Linked DNA regions of Homo sapiens. The protein of the gene in region 2 interacts with the protein of the main gene of each other region in a pairwise test. Each region holds a gene or a part of one and is shown on either strand. Other genes may lie near its edges.

What was found. Proteins that work in one complex are often made in the same cells at the same time.
Region 1: the proteins of RIT2 (region 2) and RGL3 interact in a two-hybrid assay, tested with the Homo sapiens proteins (one large-scale study listed by BioGRID and IntAct).

The regions. Positions count from the first base shown.
Region 1 is NC_000019.10:11,398,757-11,403,271, reverse strand, and holds part of RGL3 (ral guanine nucleotide dissociation stimulator-like 3), read left to right. Parts: intron 1-565; coding exon 566-622; intron 623-730; coding exon 731-817; intron 818-1,024; coding exon 1,025-1,057; intron 1,058-1,139; coding exon 1,140-1,261; intron 1,262-2,974; coding exon 2,975-3,070; intron 3,071-3,163; coding exon 3,164-3,232; intron 3,233-3,302; coding exon of another isoform or gene 3,303-3,320; coding exon 3,321-3,417; intron 3,418-4,515.
Region 2 is NC_000018.10:42,744,551-42,749,440, forward strand, and holds part of RIT2 (GTP-binding protein Rit2), read right to left. Parts: intron 1-4,890.

The sequences.
Region 1 (4,515 bases), on a different chromosome or scaffold from region 2:
CGAGGTCAGGAGATCGAGACCATCCTGGCTAACACAGTGAAACCCTGTCTCTACTAAAAATACAAAAAATTAGCTGGGCGAGGTGGGGGGCGCCTGTAGTCCCAGCTACTTGAGAGGCTGAGGCAGGAGAATGGCGTGAACCCCGGGGGGCGGAGCCTGCAGTGAGCCGAGATCGCGCCACTGCACTCCAGCCTGGGTGACAGAGCGACACTCCCTCTAGAGTGCAGCCTCTGCTTCTCAGGTTCAAGCTATCCTTCTGCCTCAGCCTCCCAAGTAGCTGGGACTACAGGTGTGAGCCACCATACCCGGCTAATTTTTGTATTTTTAGTAGAGACAGGGTTTCACCATATTGGCCAGGGTGGTCTGGAACTCCTGACCTCACATGATCTGCTCGCCTTGGCCTCCCAAAGTGCTGGGATTACAGGCGTGAGCCATCGCACCTGGCCTACCACTGACTTTTGATTACTCAAAGCATGAAGGGTATATATGATGGGTCTGCAGGCATCGTTCCTGAGGAATTGTCCAAGGAGACCCCAGACCTGGCTCAGTTTTTCTCTTCCCTCAGGAGGAGGCCACTGAGGGATCCCAAGAAGAGGACAACACCCCAGGCAGCCTGCCCTCAGTGAGTGATTACAGTTTGGGATGGGGACAAGTGGGACCTTCAGGGAGGGTTGTGGATGGTGATGGGGTCAGTAATGGCCCCAAGTGACTGGAGCTTTGGGGGCTGCAGAAACCACCCCCAGGCCCTGTCCCCTACCTTGGCACCTTCCTTACGGACCTGGTTATGCTGGACACAGCCCTGCCGGATATGTTGGAGGTCTGACCCCTGACCCTTGACCCCTGACCCCAGCTCCACTTGCCCCCAGCACAATGGGCCTCCCAATATCCACCCTTGATCCTACCTGTACTCCTGACACCACCCCACACTCCCTTACTACAGTGGGGCTCCTGACATCCCAGCCCCTGACCTTGACCCTTGACCCTTGACCCTGGGTGCTGCAATTCAGACACACTTTGCCCCCAGGGGGATCTCATTAACTTTGAGAAGAGGAGGAAGGTGAGTGGAGGCTACAGTGGGTGTGGTGGTGCCTGAGGGTGGGGGTGGGGCAGGGGTAGGGTCTTAGAGGCTCGTCCTCCAGGAGTGGGAGATCCTGGCCCGCATCCAGCAGCTGCAGAGGCGCTGTCAGAGCTACACCCTGAGCCCCCACCCGCCCATCCTGGCTGCCCTGCATGCCCAGAACCAGCTCACCGAGGAGCAGAGGTGACCACCCTGTAGCCTGTCCCAGCCCCACCCCAGCTGAGCCTGGGTCACCAACTGGATTCCACCCACTCCATACACACCTCCAGCTCCTCCCAAGACCCCCTCTTGAGCCCTGATCCCCCACTACAACCTGTGACCTTGCAGTATCTCCAGTCGAATCAAATAGACTGGGCCTGGTGGTTTACTCGTGTAATCCCAGCACTTGGGAGGCCAAGGTGGGTGGATCACTTGAGCCCAGGATTTCGAGACCAGCCTGGGCAACATGGCGAAACCCCATATCTACAAAAAAATACAAAAATTAGCTGAACGTGGCTGGGCACGGTGGCTCACACCTGTAATCCCAGCACTTTGGGAGGCCGAGGCGGGTGAATCACATGAGGTAAGGAGTTTGAGACCAGCCTGGCTAACAGAGTGAAACCCCGTCTCTACTAAAAATACAAAAAAAAAATTAGCCAGGTGTAGTGGCAGGCGCCTGTAGTCCCAGCTACTTGGGAGGCTGAGGCAGGAGAATGGCGTGAACCCGGGAGGCAGAGCTTGCAGGGAGCCGAGATGGTGCCACTGCACTCCAGCCTGGGCAACAGAGCGAGACTCCGTCTCAAAAAAAAAAAAAAAAAATTAGCTGAATGTGGTGTTGAGTGCCGTTGGTCCCAACTACTTGGGAGGCTGAGGTGGGAGGATTGCTGGAGCCTGGGAGGCAGAGGTTGGAGTGAGCCAAAATCACGCCACTGCAGTTCCAGTCTAGGTGACAGAGTGAGACCCTGTCTCAAAAAAAAAAAAAAAAAAATAGTCACAATTGACCTCTGACCTCAATTTCAACCCCATCTGATTTTCTGACCTCAACTTTAGCATTCAGCTGGCCATTCAACTCAACTGTCCCATCTGTTGACTTCCCCATCTTTGGTCCTATCTGACCCATGACCTTATTCATGACCCCTCATCTGACTCTCTGACCCCAACCCTTGACCCTCAGTTCTGAGTAACTGACTCCAACTTTTATGTTTGACTGTCCAGCTTGACTATGACAACTGTGTCCTTTCTTTCTATATAACTGTGACCCTAACCATTGACCCCAATGGTGACCTGACCCCAGTCTGACCCTGACTTTATTTTATTTATTTATTTATTTATTTATTTATTTATTTATTTATTTATTTTTGAGACAGAGTCTGGCTCTGTTTCCCAGGCTGGAGTGCAGTGGAGTGATCTCGGCTCACTGTAGCCCCCGCCTCCCAGGTTCAAGCAATTCTACTGCCTCAGCCTCCCCGGTAGCCGCAATTACAGGCGCGAGCTACCACACCTGGCTAATTTTTTTTGTATTTTTAGTAGAGACGGGGTTTCACTATATTGGCCAGGCTGGTTTCGAACTCTTGACCCGAAGCAATCCTCTCGCCTCAGCCTCCCAAAGTGCTAGGATTACAGGCGTGAGCCACTGCACCCAGTCCTGACCCTGACTTTAATCCTGACCCAATTTGATTCCTTAGTGCCACCCTGTGAATCTCTTTGTGACCTCCTGACCAGCCATCCTGTCCCATCTCTGATAAGACCTTGATGCTCAATGACCCTCATTTACCACCCTGACCCTGGCATGTGGGGTGCCACCTCTGGCTGCTCCCCCTTACACCCCAAACCCACCTCCCAACTGATTCCAACTCTTATCTCTCCATCCCCTGTATTTCCTGCCCCCACCACCTCATCCACATATTGACCCCTCAGCTACCGGCTCTCCCGGGTCATTGAGCCACCAGCTGCCTCCTGCCCCAGCTCCCCACGCATCCGACGGCGGATCAGCCTCACCAAGCGTCTCAGTGCGTGAGTCTCGGGGTGTGTGTAGGGGCGGTGATGTGGGCAGATATCAGCAAGGGCTGCTCCTGCCTTAGCCTCATCCCCTGTCCCCATCCTTAGGAAGCTTGCCCGAGAGAAAAGCTCATCACCTAGTGGGAGTCCCGGGGACCCCTCATCCCCCACCTCCAGGTGAGCATTCTGCTTGGTGATGGGACTGGGGATCATGGGATCAGGAGTCAGCACAGCCACCCCACCTCAGCCTCTGCATCTCCCCCAGTGTGTCCCCAGGGTCACCCCCCTCAAGTCCTAGAAGCAGAGATGCTCCTGCTGGCAGTCCCCCGGCCTCTCCAGGGCCCCAGGGCCCCAGCACCAAGGTACCAAGACGGCTTGTGTGTGCATGCGGGCCTGCGGGCACCCAGGCTCTGTGTGTGTGCACGTGTGTGTGCATGCACATGTGTACACACAGGATTGTGGGGCCAGGAGTGTATACAGGAGGCACACTGAGCGCCCGGGGTATCCATCCAGGGGATTGCATGCATCTGCACGGCCCTGTTTGGGTGATCACTCATAAATCCGACTCGTGCTCAGATTTGGACCTGTGTAACTGCTTGCCCATGGGTCATCTAGGGTGCAATCACATCACACCCCTTTTTATTTGAAACAGGGTCTTCTTGCTCTGTCACCCAGGCTGAAGTGCAGCGGTGCAATCTCAGCTCACCGCAACTTCCACCCCTCCCCCAGGCTCAAGCAATCCTTCCACCTCAGCCTCCCAAGTAGCTAGGACCACAGGTGTGCACCACCATGCCCTGCTATTTTTTTTATTTAGTAGAGATGAGGTTTCGCCATGTTGCCCAGGTGGGTTTCGAACTCCTGAGCTCAAACAATGCACTCACCTCGGCCTCCCAAAGTGCTGGGATTACAGGTGTGAGCCACCGCACCCAGCCTACACTTTTTTGAGGACATGTATGTCCCTAAGAATCTGCATACCATGGCAGACACGGTGGCTATTGCCTGTGATCCCGGCACTTTGGGAAGCCAAAGTGGGAGGATTGCTTGAGGCCGGGAGTTCAAGACCAGCCTGGGCAACATAGTGAGACCCTATTTCTATTAAAAGTCAAAAAAATTAGCTGGGTGTAGTCCCAGCTACTCAGCAGGCTGAGGTGGAAGGATCGCTTGAGTTTGAGGCTGCAGTGAGCTACGATCATGCCACGGCACTCTAGCCTGCATGATAGAGCGAGATCCTGTTTATGAAGAAAAAGAGACTGGGCACGGTGGCTCACGCCTGTAATCCCAGCACTCTGGGAGGCCGAGGTGGGCGGATCACGAGGTCAAGAGATCGAGACCATCCTGGCCAACGTGGTGAAACCCTGTCTCTACTGAAAATAGAAAAATTAGCTGGGTATGGTCGCGCACACCTGTAGTCCCAGCTACTTGGGAGGCTGAGGCAGGAGAATCACTTGAACCCAGGAGAC
Region 2 (4,890 bases):
CAAACTTGGTTAATTTTTTTGACTTTTTTTTTTCCCCAATTTCCTCAACATAAGATATTAATACCTACCTCAAAACCTCTTTGTTAGGGTTAAGTGAGATCATCTAGAAGAGGCACATGCTGGGCACATGTTTAAAGCTCTATAAATGTTAGTTGTTATTATAGTCCAGAGCTTTCACTGAAGAATAAGTTGAAGAGATGGAGTTGTCATAAAATTAAAAAATAATAATCTATCAAAAGAAAATGAAAAGCAAACACCACCATTATGGGTAAATAAGTCTCCCTCTAGCCAAGTATTCCAGAGCAGGTTTGACACTCCATAAGTCTTTGGTGGCAGTTACCCATGCTGTGGTTCATGCTGTTGTAATGGATCTCTAGAAATCATAAACTGACTGAGGCCAGGGACCGTGTCTGTCTCACTTATCATTCCTTTAGTTTCTACTACAGCTCCTGGTGCCTACATCACCATTAGAAGTATTAGAAGAGTTTAAAGAATGATCAACAAAATTACCCAGGGTTGAATAAGTATTAACTAAAATATAAAGATAAATTATATACATAAATTAGCACAGTGGATTCTATGTTCCTATAGCTGGTACTAACATTCCTACTCAAAATTTAGTGATCCCATAAAGCCCTACCAGATTATCAGTCCCCAGAATCCTGAGTTACCAGGACTCTGAATAATAAATAGACCTCCCAGCTCACTCATGTTGGATACCTGGCATAACTAAGAAAAAAAACCTTCATTATTTTAAGCTGTTGACATTTTGCAATTGTTTGTAATCAGGGCAGAAACCAACTTTTTAAACTGTTACAACACATCATATGGTTAATAAGTGGCTGAGCTGGGGTGTAAAAAATCTATCAAGTCTATCTGATCCCAAAGACAGCAAAGACAGGTTCTTCACTCTAGTCTGACTAGATCTCACTGATCCCACTAGTAGCTGTTAAACAGAGATGAGTAACTTGTCACATTTTAACCCTATGAGATAAAACATGTCTGGATTATCTCTCTTATTTTATTTTTTTCATTCCTACTGGTAAACATGCCAATTTTTTTTAGCTCATTTCTACCTTAAAATAACTTAAGAAATGCAGCGAAAACAATCAACTAAAGCTAATAACATTCTGACTTGCCAGCAATTGAGCAAAGTTATGTTTATTAAGTAACTTCCCTGATTTTCAAGTTATCACAAGTGGTAATCTTACCAAATGGTATGACACTGTATAACGTGGGTTACCATTTATTTTTCAGTCACCTGTAAGAATTTTCCCCACCCAGAAGCTAATGACTCATATTTTACATTTTGTATAGCAATACAACAGTTCTGGAACTATTTTCTATATTTATTGGCTTTCATTAGGTTACACTTATATTAATACAGCCTAAAGGCCCTTGTGGCTTGCAAATATTTTTTGTTTTGTTTTGCTTTGTTTTGTTGCTAGACTGCTTTTTAGCAGCTAAGGAGTAGATTTTTGGCAGCTCTGCTCCAGGCTGTCAGGTGGGTTCTGGTGTATTCCTCTTATCCTCTTATTTTGGGACTCAGGCTAAGAGAGCCCTTCTTATCTGGGAAATGATATTCCCATAATATAGAGCAGATGCACAGGAGGCAGGAATTATTTTATCTATATCCCAAATGACACATGGAGAAACCTAAAGTCAATGAGGCAGGACATATGCTCAACTCACATTGAAGCATGGCAAGAGTGGAGAGAAAACACAGAATTTTAAAAGAATAATTCAACTGACCACAGTCAATATAAATGCATTACAGTCTCCAACTTTAAAAGACAAAGACTGTTCAACCAGATTTTACAAAAATCACCTGCAGTTGCAGTACCTTACATGTAAAGATATAGAAAGTGAAATTTGAATGGAAATTTACACATGAAGAAAGCTGCTATAGTTTAAATATCAAAGTAGACAGTAAGTAAAAATAGAGCATTATTTGAGTAAAAGGGGAATATTTTATAATAATAAAGGAAGACATTATACTAATTAATTCTTATGTACTAAAAATACAGTCTCAGTTTAAATTTTAAAAGTTGACAAAATAAAATCCAAAAGTTTAGTGAGATATTTTAATGTGTCTCTCTCAGCAATTGAAAGAACTGGTAACAATCCTATTGACACTAGTACACAAGAGACAGAAAGAGGAAATCCTGTCTAAATCATTATTTGAAGCCAGTATAACCCTAATACCAAATCCAGGAAAGGACATAACAAAAACAGAATTTAAAACAAAAATAACATGATAATCTCAATAGATGCAGAAAAAGCATTTGACAAAATCCAGCATCCCTTTGTGATTAAAACCCTCAGAAAAATTGGCATAGAAGGGACCTGCCTTACTGTAATAAAAGCTATCTATTACAAACTCACAGCCGATGTAGCACTGAATGGGGAAAAGTTGAAAGCATTTCCCCTGAGAACATGAACATGACAAGGATGCCACTCTTATCCCTCCTATTCAACATAGTACTGGAAGTCCTAGGCAGAACAATCAGACAAGAGAAAGAAATAAAGGACATTCAAACTGGTGAAGAGGAAGTAAAACTGATGCAGTTTCCTGATGATATAATTGTATACCTAGAAAACCCTAAAGACTCTTCCAAAAAGCTCCTAGATAAATGAATTCAGCAAATTACAGGATACAAAGTTTATATACACGAATCAGTAGCTCTGCTATATACCAACAGCGACCAAGCTGATAATCAAATCAATAAGATAACCTGTTTTACAATAGCTGCTAAATAAATAAATAAAATACTTAAGAATATACCAAACCAAGGAAGTGAAAGACCTCTACAAGGAAAACTACAGAACACTGTTCAAAGAAATCATAGACGACACAAACAAATGAAAACACATCCCATGCTCGTGGATGGGTAGAATCAATACTGTGAAAATGACCATGCTGCCAAAAGCAATCTATAAATGCAATTTCCATCAAAACACCACCGTCATTCTTCACAGAACTAGAAAAAACAATCCTAAAATTCATATGGAAGCAAAAAGGAGAGCACATAGCCAAAGAAAGACTAAGCATAAAGAAGAAATCTGGAGGCATCACGTTACATTGAAACTATACTATAAGGCTGTAGTCACCAAAACAGCATGGTACTGGTATATAGGCATATAGATAAATGGAATAGAATAGAGAACCCAGAAATAAAGCCAAATACTAACAGCCAAGAGATCTTTGACAAAGCAAACAAAAACATAAAGTGGGGAAAGGACACCCTACTCAACAAATGGTGTTAGGATAATTGGCAAGCCACACGTAGAAGAATGAAACTGCATCCTCATGTCTCACCTTATACAAAAATCAAACTCAAGATGGATAAAGGACTTAAATCTAAGATCTGAAAACATAAAAATTATAGAAGATAACACTGGAAAAATCCTTCTAGACATTGGCTTAGGCAAAGACTTCATAAGCAAGAACCCAAAAGCAAATGCAACAAAAACAAAGATAAATACTTGGGACTTAATTAAACTAAAAAGTTTCTGCACATCAAAATAAACAATCAGCAGAGTAAATGAACAACCCACAGAGTGGGAGAAAATCTTTGCAATCCCATAGAGTGGAAGAAAACCCGCAAAGTGGAAGAAAATCTCCAGAGTCTATACATTTGACAAAAGACTAATATCCACAATCTACAAGAGACTGAAAGAAATCCGCAAGAAAAAAACAAACAATCCCATCAAAAAGTGGGCTAAGGACCTGAATAGACAATTCTCAAAAGAAGATACACAAATGACCAACAAAAATATGAAAAAATACTCAACATCAGTAATGATCAGGGAAATACAAATCAAAACCACATGCAATACCACCTTACTCCTGCACGAATGGTCATTATCAAAAAAAAACAAACAATAATAGATGTTAGCATGGATGTGGTTAAAAGGGTACACTTTTACACTGCTGGTGGGAACTTAAACTAGTACAAACACTATGTAAAACAGTGTGGAGATTCTGTAAAGAACTAAAAGTAGAACTACCAGTTGATCCAGCAATGTCACTACTGGGTATCTATCCAGAGGAAAATAAGTCATTATACGAAAAAGATACTTGCACATGCATATTTATAGCAGCACAATTCACAAATGCAAAAACATGAAACCAGCGCAGAAAACAAGTGGGAGCTAAGATATGATAATGTAAAGGCATAAGAAAGATACAATGGATTTTGGGGACTCAGGGGAAAGGGAGGTAGGTGGATAAAAGGCTACACATTGGGTCCAGTGTACACTACTCGGGTGATGAATGCACCAAAATCTCAGAAATCAACACAAGAAAACTTTTTCATGCAACCAAACACCTACTGTTCCCTCAAAACCTATTGAAATAAAAATAAGTAAAGAAATAAAGAAAAAATTAATAGGCAAATATTCAGTAAGGATATAGGGGACTTGAACAAAACAAACTCAATTGATCCAATTGACATATACAACATGTCATAGCTAACAAATGAAAAAGTCAGATTCTCTTCAAGTTAACTTGGAACATTTATAAAAATTGACTTTATCCTAAAGTGAATCTCAAAACATTGCAAAGAATAAAAATTACAACATAGTCCAAAATAAATGAAATTGATCTAGAAATTTAAAAAACTCTACTAAATTCTCAAATAGTTGAGAAAAAGTATGTATTTAAATAGTCAATAGGTCAAAGAAGAAATTATAAAAACATTTTCAAAATATTTGAAACGAAATGCTAATAAAAATGCACTGTATCAAAACTTATAGGACTATCTCTAGCTTTATTCATAATGATGCTTATAGCATTACAAGCATGTTTTTAAAAAGCATAAACACTCAAATTTAATGATCAAAATATTAACCACAAAAAGTAACCAGAAAGCTCAGCAAATTAATTTA